Linked DNA regions of Homo sapiens: regions 1 and 3 are each linked to region 2. Evidence: fine-mapped QTL for protein levels in blood plasma. A gene starts in region 2. Each other region holds a variant in brackets. All regions are shown on one strand. Distances are from middle to middle.

What was found. PIP is the posterior inclusion probability: the model's chance that the variant is causal. The UK Biobank Pharma Proteomics Project read protein levels with antibody pairs (Olink). The fine-mapping took linkage between variants from a reference panel, not from the people measured, so its PIPs are less certain.
Region 1: its variant is fine-mapped to the plasma level of the AGT protein (UK Biobank, PIP above 0.99).
Region 3: its variant is fine-mapped to the plasma level of the AGT protein (UK Biobank, PIP above 0.99).

Annotation. Positions count from the first base shown.
Region 1 is chr1:230,738,622-230,743,957 of GRCh38, forward strand. It overlaps a transcript of AGT not described here. Among named protein-coding and RNA genes, the nearest start is that of CAPN9, 6.1 kb to the right of the region's middle. The variant G/T (reference allele first, on the strand shown) is at 3,033.
Region 2 is chr1:230,712,502-230,717,823 of GRCh38, forward strand. It overlaps AGT (angiotensinogen), which reads right to left and starts at 1,621. Exons shown (of 5, transcript NM_001384479.1): 1 at 1,585-1,621.
Region 3 is chr1:230,732,698-230,738,033 of GRCh38, forward strand. It overlaps a transcript of AGT not described here. Among named protein-coding and RNA genes, the nearest start is that of CAPN9, 12 kb to the right of the region's middle. The variant A/G (reference allele first, on the strand shown) is at 2,208.

The DNA of each region.
Region 1 (5,336 bases), 26 kb after region 2:
AGGTATGCTTGCTGGCTAATGCTACCTTGCCAAAGGGGGAGGATACGTCATTTATAAGAATCAGAAAATGGTGCATTAAAAAGAGAAAATGGAGAGTGGGAAAGGATGAGATGCATAAAGAGATGCTGAAAATAAACCTTTACCACAAAAAGATGGGAATTCAATTAGATGTATGTCCCATAACTAAATACACAACTGTAGATGTAGGTGATAAATCAAATGAGATATTTTAAATTAAATTATTTTAATAAACCCAGTAATATTGTACACAGACAATATAAAAATCTCTGTAGTCAAAGGACTTTTAAAAAAATTACATCTCCTTCTGCTATAGAAAAACTTCACACACCTCCAGCAGCAAAGAATCTTATTTCTCAGTGGTAAGGCATGTTAGGGATACTCTTGCTACTATGTAACAGACTTTATCAATGTTCCCTCCAATTAAACATAATAAGGCCAGGTGCAGTGGCTCACATCTGTAACCCCAGCACTTTGGGAGGCCAAGGCAGGAGAATCATTTGAAGCTAGGAGTTCAAGACCAGTGTGGGCAACATACTGAGACTCCCTCCTCTACAGGTTTTTTTTTTTTTTTAATTAGCTGGGTATGACTATAGTCCCAGCTGCTCAGGAGGCTGAGGCAGAAGGATGGCTGGAGCCCAGGAGTTGGAAGCCACAGTGAGCTATGATCATGCCACTGCACTCCAGCAGTGTCTCTAAAATAAAATAATAATAATAAATGTCCAATCACAATTTCCACTATGGGGCGGGGGGTGGCTGGGAATTAAGAGTCACCTTGTCCACCAGGGTGTTGCCCTGAGCAGGGCATGAGATGGTGTGGCAGAGTCTGCAGAGCTGAGAGCCCAAAGCTGGGGACCACTGAGAAGAGCAAATGAGTTTCTGAGGTTCGGCAAGCACAGAGAAACCAGGTGGAGGGCTCATCATTAACGGGAAATGTTGGAGCCAGGCTGAGCTTCCGGGGTAATTACGGTGCATTGCCCCCGATAGGAAAATGAAACACAAGTTATGCTAGCTGTGACCCCTCCACAGCAAATACCGTAAGGAAAGAAGCTGGTTCCCAGAGACACCTCAACCAAGAAGATCCCAGAGAGCCAGAGGTCCCTGCTCCAGTGGCAGGTTTGGTAAGATTCACCCTGACCTAGATGCCACTATCAGAAGGAGGAAGGAGGAGGAAGATCACTTATTTGGGGAAAAGTGGACCTGTTACTGGAAAGGGGTCCTGATCCAGACCCCAGGAGAGGGTTCTTGGACCTCACGCAAGAAAGAATTCAGGACGAGTCTATAGATCGAAAGCAAGTTTATAAAGACGTAAAGAAAGAATGGCCACTCCGTAGGTAGAGCAGCAGTATGGGCTGCTCAACTGAGTATACTTAGGGTTATTTCTTGGTCATATGCTAAACAAAGGGTGGATTATTCATGAGTTTACCAGGAAAGGGGCAGAGGCTTCCCTGAAACAAGGCTTCCTCTCCTTTTTAGACTATAGAGGATGACTTCCTGACATTGCCATGGCATTTGTAAACTGTCATGATGCAGGTGGGAGTGTCTTTTAGTATGCTAATGTATTATAATTAGTGTATAATGAGCAGTGAGGACGAACAGAGGTCACTTTCATCGCCATCTTGGTTTTAGTGGGTTTTGGCAGCTTCTTTACTGCATCTTGTTTTATTTATCAGTGGGTTCTTTGTGACCTGTATCTTTGTGACCTGCCGACCTCCTATGTCATCCTGTGACTAAGAACGCCTAACCTCCTGGGAAAGCAGCCAGGAGGTCTCAGCCTTATTTTACCCAACCCCTATTCAAGTTGGAGACATTCTGGCTCAAACACCTCTGACAAACCTTACAGGATATTTGAACTTTGAAGTAACTGCTAGTTTACAGAGACAGAAGAAGAGAGATAGAGTAAGAGAGACCATTTTAAAATGAATAAGAGTGTCACACAACAAAATCTAAATACAAGTTTTGGTGCGAGGTGGTAACTGGGGACTCCAGAGGGCAAGAAGAGATAATATTTTTTTTAATTAGGATTTTTGGCCAGATGCGGTGGCTCACGCCTGTAATCCCAGCACTTTGGGAGGCTGAGGTGAGTGGATCATGAGGTCAAGAGATCAAGACCATCCTGGCCAACATGGTGAAACCCCATCTCTACTAAAAATACAAAAATTAGCTGGATGTGGTGGCACACGCCTGTAGTCCTAGCTACTTGGGAGGCTGAGGCAGGAGAATAGCTTGAACCCGGGAGGTGGGTTACGGTGAGCCAAGATCGCACCACTGCACTCTAGCCTGGCAACAGAGGAGACTCTGTCTCAAAAATTAGGATTTTTTTGGGCCCTAAACTGCGGAGAGTAAATTCCTATCCTGCTGCACCTGTGATTCAAGTCATCCTAAGATCTGTGCATAGCATCAACCTCCAGCTCCTAGATGAGAAGGAGAAAGGAAATCGTCTTGGGCTGAGGTCAAACTCCAGGGAAAGAAATCCCAGAGAGTTAGCAGAAGGCAGACAGGTATATTTATCATTCTTCAACAATGAATGTTTAAGGAGTGAAACTACTTCTCAGGGACGGAAGTACAATTTCAACGGTGTCACCTTAGGCCATAGGGGCAGTGATCTAGAGCTTACTTAGGGAGATTAGGCCTTGGAGGAAACTATATTCCACAATCAAGCCAGAAAGCAAGGCCAGAGCTGAGAGAAGCTATAGGCAGCTTGTGCAGCCCTGGGAAACCAGGGGAACCACCAGGTCGTCCACGAGCCTATGCGCCTACAAGCTGGGATCTCTTGAGTCAGACAGCTGAGGCCAAAGACTGGCATCACCCTGTGGAGCAGCGAGTGTGGGGGAGATTTGGGCTGGGTGCTCTGTTGCCTTTCAGGAGATGGCTCTTACCCTATGGTGTGATGCCTGAGCACGGCTCATTCCCACTGAAGAAAAGATTTGTTATGGTTCATGAATGAGTGCCCACTAGGACAGGGGTGAAACTAGGAGTGTTCCAGGGATGGACAAGTCCCTGGATGAAGAAAG[G/T]GAGACCCTCACCTGATGTCAGGCTTACCAATGACCTTGGGAGGGGATGGATAGGGAAGCAAGGTCTGGGTGAAGATCTAGTTCTCATCTTCTAGGAAATGGGGGTGGCCCTCAGGACAGATAAGCTCCTTTGCAAATGTACAGACATCTTGCGAGGAGAGATACACGGGGGAGGGAAGGCAGAGCCCACCTAGGCCAAAACATCATTGTGGGCTTTAAGTTTCAAACTAGGCTTTTAAAAGTCGACAACAGTTAAGGCTAGTGTTGTGGTGTACACCTGTAGTCCCAGCCACTGGGGAGGCTGAGGTAGGAGGATCTCTTGAGCCCAGGAGTTCAAGCCTTCAGTGAGCTATGATCATGTCACTGCACTCCAGCCTGAGTGACAGAGCAAGACTCCGACTCTAAAATAAAATTTTAAAAAATTCAACCAGGTAAATCTATAGGGTTAAAGCTAAAAAAATATAAAAGGCATATAGAAAAGTCTCCCCACATTCCTCTACCCCCATCTACTCCACCTACCCCCAGAAAACAGAACCACTATTATGAGTAGATCTTTGTGTAGTTTCCGAGAAATTTTTATGCAGATATAAATAAATATTTTTTGCCTTCTTTCTCCACAAATGCTGGCATACTCTACATGCCATTCTGCACTTTGAATTTTCTTTTTTCTTTTTCTTTTTGAGACAGAGTCTCGCACTGTCACCCAGGCTGGAGTGCAGTAGCACCATCTCGGCTCACTGCAACCTCCACCTCCCGGGTTCAAGCAATTCTCCTACCTCTGCCTCCCAAGTAGCTGGGATTACAGGTGCCCACCACTATGCCTGGCTAATTTTCTGTATTTCTAATAGAGACAGGGTTTCACTATGTTGGCAAGGCTGGTCTTGAACTCCTGACCTCATGATCCGCCTGCCTTAGCCTCCCAAAGTGCTGGGATTACAGGCGTGAGCCACTGCACCCGGCCACTTTGACTTTTCAGTTGAACACTGTATCCCAGGGACCTTCCCACATCAGTGTATGCAGAGTTTCCTTGTTCCGTTTTATGGCTGTACACTGTTCCACTTCATGATTAGCTGGACCATAATTTTCTTTACCATTCCCCCAACAGAGGGCACTAAGTGCTTTCCAACCTTTTTTAATGTAAACAATGCCACCATGAAATGAGCAAGCTGGTATACCTTTCACTTTTCGGGGTGCGGCTCTATCATCAGGATAAAGATAAATTTCTAGAAGGGAAACAGCTGGATCAGAGTGGGTGCATTGGTAGCTCTGAGAGGTATTCATAAATAGTTCTCCAAAAAGGAGACACCAATTTACACTCCCTTCAGCAAGTAGGGGGGTGTTTTACTTTTTCTTTTTGAGATGGAGTCTCGCTCCTCGCCCAGGCTGGAGTGCCGTGGCTCGATCTCGGCTCACTGCAGCCTCTGACTCCCGGGTTCAAGCAATTCTCCTGCCTCAGCCTCCCAAGTAGCTGGGATTACAGGCACCCCCACCACGCCTGACTCATTTTTTGTATTTTTAGTAGAGTCAAGGTTTTACCATGTTGGCCAGGCTGGTCTTGAACTCCTGACTTCAGGTGACCCATCTGTCTCAGCCTCCCAAAGTGCTGGGATTACAGGTGTGAGCCATTGCACGCAGTCGTCTTACTCTTAACATACCCAAAGTGTTCAACTTTTCTTCCAAGTCTGCCTCTCCTCCTTCTGTCACCACCATCACCCATTTGCTCAAGTCTGAAGGCAGGACGCCACCTTTACACCTCCACCCTTGCACCCCAGCAGAACGCCCTGACAGTACTTCTAGAAGAATCTGTCCCTTCCTGCCTTCACTCTGGTTACATCTGGAGTTAGCCTCAGCCCCTCTCACCTGGACACCTGTGCAGGTCCCCTGCCTCTCCACTCTCCACCCTCCTCGCCAGCCCACCCCATCCTCCACACTGCAAGCCAAGGGGCTACAAATGTCGCAGCCGGGTGGGCTCACTCTCAGCCCATCATAGGGCTGAGATCCCTCTGCAGGATCCAGGCTGTTTGGCATATCCCTCAAAACCCAGGCCCTGCTGTAAGGCCTGGACCGGGTGGGGTCCTAGAGGTCATCTCCCTGCACCCATGTGAAGCTTCTGAGCATTTGTCCTTGGGGTTTTGCCCCATGGCATCCCAGAGCCACCCAGGCACTATGTTCACCTCCTGCTGCCCTTCAAGATGAACAAGAAGAAGAGAAACAAAGGGAGTTCGCCACAGGCCTGAGTGTGGAGGAGACAGAGAAAGAACAGCACAGAAAAGAGAGGCCAGGAAGGCCCCAGATGCCAGGTCA
Region 2 (5,322 bases):
TTTCTGTGCAGAGAAGCCTAAGCCACCAGTTCACACCTAATCTAGACAGTCACATCAAATCAGGTCAACAGGGGAAACCTGTGGGAACCGACTGCTGGGAAGTCCTGCCTGACAAGCGCCAACTGTTCGGGGTTTGGATGGCGCTGGTCGATGCAGCCCGCTCACTGTGCTGCTCCTGCTCAGGCAGCGTCTCCAGAGACGCAATTCCATGGGCCATTTTTGAGGCAGAGACTGTCGTTTGTTCTCAGTTGTGATCTGCGGCTGCTCCCTAGGCTGGTTCCAGGTCTGCACGCAGCCGCGTCCTGGGAGTAATGGTGCTCTGGGGTGGCGGGCCTGACACCCTCGCCCTGAGTGCCCCTCCGCCTTCTCCTCTCCTGCCCCTGCCTCTTGGCCAGCACCTGCCCCTTCTATGTCTCCCTACTTCTCCCGGGCTGAATGCTAAAGGTGAAGATGACGGCTCATGCTCCTGTGGTGCCTGCCATTTGCAGGGCACTGTTCTCATATCAACCCCTCTGACCTCACCATAGTCCTCACCTTCCCTGAGGTTTCCCTGATGCAGTATTTCACCCTGCAGCTTTCCCCACCACACCGGGCACTCTCAACTCTCTCATCCAGCTCCCCTTTTCCCTCCTTATAACCCTCTGTACCATGTAGTTATGCACTTATTCTGTCCAGCGTCTTTGTCTGTTTGCTCTGATGTGAATGTGAGCCCCGGAACAGGGTTCCCGCTGTTGTGTTTACTAATACAGCCCACATTCCTAGGATAGTCCCTGGGACCTACTGCATCCTGGAGAAGTAGTTAATGAATTGGTTCATGCTGTTTTGCAGAGGAACAGAGAGGTCCAGTGACTTGTTCAACGTCACACAGCTGGGAAGAGACAGAACTAGGACTCAGAACCAGGCCCCCTGACTCTGTCATCCACGAGCTGAAGCACCAATCTACGCTGCCCTCGAATAAAATTGGAATCTGCCTTTTAGCTTATCCCAAAGCTTAGAAAGCACTTTCATGTTATATTAGTTCTCTTCAGCTATACCAGAGCCCCTGAGACAGGGAGCCCAGGCATCGTTATTAGTTCCATTTTATAGGTGAGCAAATCGAGGTTCAGGGAGATGGTGACCAGCCTGATGACACACAGTCAGGCAGTCTGTCTCGAGGGAGGGGTAGGGTGACCACTCTGGGGATCCCAGCTGGAGACTGACCGAGCCCGGCCCTTCCCTCCAGCCCCAATTCCTGCACAAGCCCTGCTATTCCTCCTGATGGCAAGAGGACCCGGTGGACTCTTGGCCATGATGACTCTGTTCCTGTACCAGTCTGCTCCGTTCCTGAGGACCCTAACTTTTCTCAGCGGAAGCAGGAAGACCTGACCATCTTGTCCTATTGCTGAGGAGGAGCAGCTCCTCCTGTAAGACCCCAGGTGGGCACCGAGTGGGGGAAAGCCCGCGTCCGGATGACTGGTCTTATGAGAGGGGAGAGGTTTTTCAGTCATCACCGTGCCTCCTCCCGGCCTTTTCCTCCTAGCCCACAGCTCAGTTACATCTGAGAGAGACAAGACCGAGAAGGAGCTGAGGGGGCCCCCGGCTTACCTTCTGCTGTAGTACCCAGAACAACGGCAGCTTCTTCCCCCGGCCGGGTCACGATGCCCTATTTATAGCTGAGGGGTGGGGATGGAGCTGTTCCCAGGCTGCCTGTGCACAGGCTGGAGAGGAGGGTTACATCACTTGGCCAGACCACAGGCTGGCCAGAAGGACAGATGCCAGAAGCGACACTCACGCTGGGACCTCTTCCAGGAAGTCTTAGTGATCGATGCAGAGTTTCACTGCTGAACAGAGTGAGCCGGTGCAGGGTCGAGTTACACATTTACCGAAGTTTGCAGGAGTCGGGGCCAAGGTTCCCAGAAACGGGAGCATCTCCCTAGGTGTGTGACAGCCTGAGGCCAACCACCCAGGCCTTCTGACCCAGCCCCGGGAGATGTACCCCCAAGAGGCCACAGGGACATGCAGGCCGGAGGTGCAGAGGGCAGAGGGCAGGGGAGAGTCTTGCTTAGGCAACACGGGGGCCACTTCTGACCCTGCTGCCCGCTCATGGGATGTGTGACCTTCAGCTGCTCCAAAGAGCCTACCCTGTGCAAAGGCCTCTAATAGACACTGGGGAAAACACACAAGCAAGTGAAAAGTGCCTTCTGGAAGTTTCCAGTGTAGCTGGGGAGACTGTTAAACACCAACAATAGCACAGCCAGATTGAAAGACACAAACAAAATGCCTTCAGGATGCAGGCATTGAAAGATGTGCTGTTCTGTGTTTATGCTGTACAAATTGCAAATGGTAAGTTTCACATGACCAGTAAAAGGGTTATAATTCTTATTTTCCTATAGGTAAGACTTGCTTTTGTAGTCATTATAACAGGGCATGACAGAGACCTTGGTGAGAGTCGCCAGAAGCCAGTGATCACAAGTGACGCAGTGGGTGAGGCAGGTTGGGAGTGGTGATGTGTCCAGCCTTAAATACATGGTATTAGGGCACTGAAGGGACAGGAAGGAAGATCCTGCTTCAACACAAGCAGGTTCAAGGAGCCACGGCATATCCACGATGGCAGACATGAAATTACCCAGGAATGGAACATTTAACAACAAAGAGCAGGAAGAGATGGTGCCTGGATATGAGGCAGAAGCTGTACATTCACTGACTGAACAATCAACAAACACACAAATACCTCTTTTTTACCCATTACTCTAAATCTTCATTTAAAAAAATCATATCTCACATGGGCCTGTAAATTCTGAAATACATTTTTTTAATTACTTTGTTCCTATAGATAGGGACTCCTCAAAAATCACTTGTCTGGGGCCCCACAGCGACTTAGAGGTGGCTTTGTCTGAACAGAACATTCGGGCCAGGTACAGTGCCTCGCATCTGTAATTCAAACACTTTTTGAGGCCAGGAGATGGAGGTTACAGTGAGCTATGATTGCACCACTGCACTCGAGCCTGGGCTACAGAGTAAGACTCTGTCTCTAAATAAATAGACAATTTTAATTTAATTTTTTTAAAATAAGAGACCATTCAAAGTGCTCCTGCCTGCGAATGGGTTAGTTGGAACAGTAGAGACTGGGGTCCTAGGCCTGGCTGTGCCACTAACTAGTTGTTTGAGGATCAGCAAGTGGTTTAACTGCAGTAACAAGTCCACCTGGACACAAGGGGGAGGTAAGGATCTAGCACTGATTAAGCAACAACCTTGTGCCCAGTGTTTAAATATTTCGGCTCTTTAAAGCCTCACAATTTGTTTCATTCACTCACTATTCCTGGTGCTCAGCATATGTCAGGGAACAAAACAAAGATCCTGGTCTTTGGGAGAGTTTCCACTGTGCCTGGGCCTCCTGCCTCGGGCCCTTGGAATGATCACTCCATTCAACAGCAAAGATAATAAACAACTGATCAGGTAACATGCTGGAAAGTGGTGTAAAAGAAAATAAAATTTCAGGACCCTCTAAATTTGGCCTCTAAGCAAGCCAAACTTCTCTTAATAATGACACGTTACTGGGGAGAACATAAGAAAATAATTTTGGTTAGATTGGACCCAATAAAGAATATCTGCTTAAACTTGTTGCAAGATTGGTTAAAAGCCCTTAATCCATGCCCAAGGCTGACTATCAGCTGGGGGATCTTCTACGTAAGGCTTTAAAGCTCATTAAAATCAATCAGAAAATTGCTAGAGAATTTTATTGAGAATGTAAATTATTCCCATAAGGAGCAGCCATTCAAACTGACTGCAGACATTTGACCCAGCTCAGATTCAGGCCAGTTTTCTTCCCAGTAGGCACCTTCTGTGTTCATTCCATCAGTGGAAGTTTCTTATGTGTACATTCCATCAGTGGAAGTTAGGGACAGAGCTTATCTGTGGCTAAATGAAGACTGTTGAATGAAAAGCAGAGGTTCTACATAGAAACCAAATAAGCCATCTGATATGGTTTGGCTGTGTCCCCACCCAAATCTCCAATTGTAGCTCCCATAATTCCCATGTGTCATGGGAGGGACCCAGTGGGAGGTAATTGAATCATGAGGGTGGATCTTTCTGATGCTGTTCTTGTGATAGTGCATAAGTCTCATGAGATCTGATGGTTTTATAAAGGGGAGTTCCCCTGAACATGCTTTCTCTCTTTTGCCAGCCACCATGTAAGATGTGCTTTTGCTCCTCCTTCACCTTCCACCATGATTGTGAGGCCTCCCCAGCCACGTGGAACACATAAGTCCATTAAACCTCTTTTTCTTTATAAATTACCCAGTCTCTGGTATGTCTTTATTAGCAGCGTGAGAACAGATACCATCAGTCAGAATCGGATCCAGGAAACCAGCCACATATGGAGTCAGCAGAGCATGATGTATTAGTCAGGCAGGTGCTATTGGGATATGTAGGGAAAAAAAAGAGAGATCAGACTGTTACTGTGTCTATATAGAAAGGGAAGACATAAGAGACTCCATTTTGAAAAAGAGCTGTACTTTAAACAATTGCTTTGCTGAGATGTTGTTAATTTGTAGCTTTGCCCCAGCCACTTTGACACAGCCCTAGATCCCTTAAACCTTGATTTTATACAACACATGTTTTTGTGAGCTCCAGGTTGGGTCAAAGTGGCTGGGGCAAAGCTACAAATTAACAACATCTCAGCAAAGCAATTGTTTAAAGTATAGCTCTTTTTCAAAATGGAGTCTCTTATGTCTTCCCTTTCTATATAGACACAGTAACAGTCTGATCTCTCTTTCTTTTCCCTACAGGGATGATGACGTTTGGGATCAGTTCTACTCTGTGGTTTCTGAGATGAGACTTGGTCTAAACTAGAACTCCTACTTTCCAATCTCTTGACCACCCAGCTAGTCATGGGATGAACACATAAACTCCTCTCTCCAGCAAAACTAAACCAAACCAGGAAAGCAGATTATTTATTTATGTATATGATGCAATCAAACCTGGAACCAGCTGTATGAGGTAAGGAAAGAATGAAGGGTAAATACAGGAATGGGGTTTCCATTTTTTGCCTCTGAGCCAAAACTAATTGTTTCACAGGAGCCTTGTTCTCTGCTGGGATCAGAACTGCAACCCCACATCATGCCTTGGAAGAGGCATGTGAGCCCTGAACATCATTTACTGGAAAGCAGGAAGAGGGGTGGAGCCTACTGTCCTGCATCCCATGATGGATCCTTGAAGTTCCAAGTTTTCCTTGCATGACAAGGACACTTCCCAGCATTTCTGGTCCTCATTGCTGCCCATCTATATCATGGGGGCTGGAACCGGGCATTTGGAGCTCTCGATTTGTAAAATGGGCTCATTAGG
Region 3 (5,336 bases), 20 kb after region 2:
AAGAGAAAACATATTTACTCTCCATTAAATGGAAGTGGATCATCATCAAGGCCTTCATTCTTATCATCTTCAGGTTGAGTAGGCTTAGGAGGAAGAGAAGGAATTGGTCTTGCTGTCTCAAGGGTGGCAGAGGTGGAAGAAAATCCAAGAAGTGGCCCCACATAGTTCAGATCTGTGTTGTTCAAGGACCAACGGTATTTGAGGACTATACTGTATTAACACAGTGAATGCAGACAGGTACCTAAAACCATCCCAGGCACAGAGGACAAGCTTAAATAACTGATCTGTTAAAAGTCAGTCCCTGCTGGTCTCGGTGGCTCACACCTGTAATCCCAGCACTTTGGGAGGCCAAGGCAGGTGGATCATCTGAGGTCGGGCGTTCAAGATCAGCCCAACCAACATGGAGAAACCTCATCTCTACTAAAGATACAAAAAATTAGCCAGGCATGGTGGCGCATGCCTGTAATCCCAGCTACTCAGGAGGCTGAGGCAGGAGAATCACTTAAACCTGGGAGGCAGAGGTTGCAGTGAGCCGAGATTGCGCCATTGCACTCCAGCGTGGGCAACAAGATCTAAACTCCGTCTCAAAAACAAACAAACAAAAAAGTCAGTTCCTTTTTGCAAAATTCCTTTCTGATTGAAATGATACAGCATTACTATCAGCTCTGAAACTCAGTGTTTCCAAATACACTTTTCCACATTCTCCTAGCAAAATAACATCAAAGGGCGATGCTTATGAAAGCAAGTGCCCATGAGAAATGCCACAAGGAGACTCCAGTGAGCGCCTTTAGTTGAGGTCGATTTTCACTCGACAAATCACTAAGTGATTTGTTTGCCTTTGTCTACACCCTGACAGTTGTCTCATTTGCTACAATTTAACAAGTCACGCCAAAATGTCATCCTTGCTTATTGTGTGAAAACAGAAGGCACTAGAAGGACAGACTTTTCCTCTGGAGAACTTGGCAATGAAGTTCATTGAGTTGGGATGAGCTAATCCAATCATATATTACAGGAGACATACAAATGGATTTCCACAACTGTTTTCACCCTAGTCTCTGCCTGGTCATTACATTTGATTTGATGGGGCCATTTGAGCACCGCTGTGAAGACTGGAGTAGTCTTCATCTCAGCTGGTCTACCAGTCAGCCACTTCCACGTGGCTGTCTTCTGCGTGGAGACCATTTCATGTTCTTGTTCTGCCAGTCATTCAGGGACCACTACCCAAGAGGCCGGGCCCAGATGACAGTCCAGGCTCCACCTTTGTGATGCACAGAAGCCCAACTCAAGCTTCTTGAAGCTTCTCATCTTCTCACTTAGGTTGGCACATGTATTTTCTCTTTCTCTTTTATAGATGACCCTTTAACAAGTGCGGGTCCCTGGCACATACTGGAGTTTGTGTGTCATTGTGTATGTGTTATATTTACAAAAGGTGAATGCAACTCAAGTGTCCACCAACAGATAAATAGAAAGACAAAATATGACATATCCATACGATGGAATATTATTCAAGCAAAATAGAAAGGACATTCTGACATATGCTACATCATGGATGGACCTTGAAGACATTATGCTAAGTAACATAAACCAGTCACAACAAGACAAATGCTATATGATTCCACTTTTACGAGGTTCTTAGAATAGTCAGATTCATAGAGACGGAAAATAGAATGGTGGTTTCCAGGGGCTGGGGGAGGGGAGAATGGGGAGATTTTGCTTAATGGGCACAGAATTTCAGTTGGGGAAGATAAAAAGAATTGTGGAGATGGATGGTGTGATGAGTCCACAACAATGCAAATATACTTGATGCCAATGAACTGAGCACTTAGAAATGGTTAAGGTTGTAAATTTTATGTTACATGTATTTTACCATAATTTTTATATATGCATTTATAAATATATATATGGTGTGTGTATGTGTGTGTGTGTGTGTGTGTTTCATCCCTATGTACAAGGCAAGACTGCTTCCAGTGAAAAATTTAATTAATAGCTGGTAAATATAACTGGCTGGTTTTTTTGTTTTTCTTTTTTTTGAGATGGAGTCTCGCTCTGTCGCCCAGGCTGGAGTGCAGTGGTGCAATCTCGGCTCACTGCAAGCTCCACCTCCCGGGTTCATGCCACTCTCCTGCCTCAGCCTCCCAAGTAGCTGGGACTACAGGCGCCTGCCACCACGCCTGGCTAACTTTTTTTTTTGTATGTTTAGTAGAGAC[A/G]GGGTTTCACCATGTTGGCCAGGATGGTCTCGATCTCCTGACCTCGTGATCTGCCCACCTTGGCCTCCCAAAGTGCTGGGATTACAGATGTGAGCCATCGCGCCCGGCCATAACTGGCTGTGTTTATCCCTGGAGGAGAGGGTCTGTGTCTATCCCTGGAGGAGAGGGTCGCTCATCGCCTCCCCGTTGCTCATGGAGGACTGCGCTTGGTACTTTATAGGCCTCCCGCCCTCCTGCAGGAGAACATTGTCAACATCACAACTGGCTGGCAGGGCCATTGTCTTTAAGGGCCTCACTGAACGCTTCCTTCCACTACCTCCCAGAGCATGGAAATCTCGCCCCGACTGCAGCGGGAGAAGGGGGCACAGTGCTGTTTCTCCTTCTTCCTTCTCGCTCCTTCTTAGAGTGGGCGAGCAACCTGGTTTCACCTTCCAAAGTGTCGTTAGTTACCTCAAGAAGGGTCATCAACTTCTCATGAGATCCTCAAACTCAATGATTTCCGAGTCATGTTTAATATTTTTACATTTTTATTTTAAAATTACAATGTAAATTAATACAGTCTTTTTTAAAAACTCAATACAGAAGTAGGTAAAGTGGCTTTTTTGTTCTCCTTTGCCCCCCTGCCCAACCCCACTTGGAGGAGGCCTGCCCCTGGTCTTAGCAGCTGGGCCCTGGGCTGACTCACCTGGTGGCCCCTCCCTCGGAGTGCACTTGTCACCCTGCTCCACCTCCTGGGAGGCTGATTACACAGATGGTGTCACAGGGCTCCCTTCCTTCCCTGGCTTCCACTCCACAGCTTCTCCTTCCCCTTAGGTTGGCCTCAGGTGACTGCATCCTCCCCCATCAGCTCCCATCCCGCCCTCCTTCCTGAAACTGCTTCTCCTTCACCCCCTCAGAGCTGTAGATTCTAGGGGTACCCTGCTGCTTCCAGCCCCCCAACTGCTCAGTCTATCATGGTCTTCCTGCCCACATCTTTGTAAATAGTTCATCGATTAAACACTCCTCCAATTGCCCCATTCAAGTGTCTTCTCAGGACCCTGCCTTTACTGTTTAAAAGAAAACAGTCCCACCTGTCATTTAGGCGGGGTTTGGGAAAGAGTGTCAAAACACAAAGGTGATGTCTTAAATCCAAAGAGTTTGCATATCTTTGCTATATTTCTTGGTGCAGTTGAAAACACATAGGCTGATTAATAATACTCAGCTCCTAAAATTATTTTCTGCTTCCAAGCTTCTGAAACACATTTATGTTTAAGGCAAAGTTTGTGTGTGTGTGTGTGTGTGTGTGTTTAATACAATTGACCCCTTATCATTTTGATCCTGAGCATAAGAATTATTTCAGCTGGGCGCGGTGGCTCACACCTGTAATCCCAGCACTTTGGGAGGCTGAGGTGGGCAGATCATGAGGTCGGGAGATTGAGACCATCCTGGCTAACACGGTGAAACCCCATCTCTACTAAAAATACAAAAAGCCGGGCATGGTGGCGGGCACCTGTAGTCCCAGCTACTCAGGAGGCTGAGGCAGGAGAATGGCGTGAACCCAGGAGGCAGAGCTTGCAGTGAGTTGAGATCACTCCACTGCACTCCAGCCTGGGTGACAGAGCGAGACTCCATCTCGAAAAAAAAGAATTATTTCGAACACTTTTGTTTCCGCAGTATTCTTGCAACATCTGGGGCATGAACACAGTTCTCAGATATAAATGGGAACGGAGCAAGGAAGAAATAGGTTACTCTGGGTGTTCAGGATTTCATTAAATGTTTTCACTACCTCAGCTTTCTTTTCCCCCTAAGTAGTCAGTGACATGGTGGTATCCTATCTAATCCAATTCTTCTAGCAGCACTTTGGGGCAAAATTTCAAAGCCCCAAAGCTCAGTTTCCTGCTAGGCTGGGCTTCGATCCCTTAAAAGGGTAGAGGTGGTCACAACTGAATGCTTCCCTGGAGTCTGTGGGAGGCATCTATCCCTTTTCAGCACCTGGATCCCTGTTGTTCTTGAGTGGAGGCTGGAAATTCTGTGAATCGGAAGCTCTGTGAATCGAAAGCTCTGTTCTCCTTGGGCTGAGAGGCAGGTACCCACTAAGCCAACCACCCTGGAGCTGGAATCTGGAGCACAGAGGTTTGAACGCTGAAGACAGCTGACTTTCAACCACAGGCATTTCTGACCCTGGTGCAAGACCATTTCTGCTCCTGCTCCCCAATCTCCCCTAGTTCTTGCTCATTTCCATGCCTGGTTCTTAGCTTCCCAGTCCATTTTCTGAGTTCCCCAAACCCTTCATCAAATACCTCTCTGCCTAGTTTATACTGATCAGACTGCATTGCCCGCAAGAAAAACCCTGACACATGCAGGAGTCATCTGCACAAAGTGCCATGCGTAGGTGACTACTAAGAATAATACTTAGAAATTGTTTATTATTATTATTATTATTTTGAGATGGAGTTTCACTTTTGTCACCAAGACTGGAGTGCCATGATGTGATCTCAGCTCACTGCAACCTCTGCCTCCCAGGTTCAAGCGATTCCCTGGCCCCAGCTTCCTGAGTAGCTGAGAATACAGGTGCCCACCACCACACCTGGCTAATTTTTGTATTTTTAGTAGAGATGGGGTTTTACCATGTTGGCCAGGCTGGTCTTGAACTCCTGACCTGAGGTGATCCACCTGCCTCAGCCTCCCAAAGTGCTGAGATTACAGGCTTGAGCCACTGCGCCCAGCCTGTTTATTATTATTATCATTATTGCTATCAAATCTCCCTTTTAGTACTACAACTTTACGAAACACTGTAGGAGGCAAAATGAGGCACAGAGCTTATTTATCTTTTTAAGATAGCTTTGAGATGTAATTCAGATACTGTACATACAATTCACCTATTTAAAGTGTACAATTCAATGATTTTTAGCATATTTAGAGTTGTGCAACCACCACCACAGTCAATTTTAGAAGATTTCATCATCTCAAAAAGAAAGCCTTTAGCCATCACCCCCACCCCTCCCACTTCACCCCATCCCCAGCCCTAAGCAACCACTAATGACTTCCTGTCTCCATAGATTTCCATAGTCTGTTGTCCTTTGTGACTTGCTTCTTTCAGTTAGCGTAATGTTTTCAAGGTTCATCCAAGGTGTAGCATTAGTACTTCAT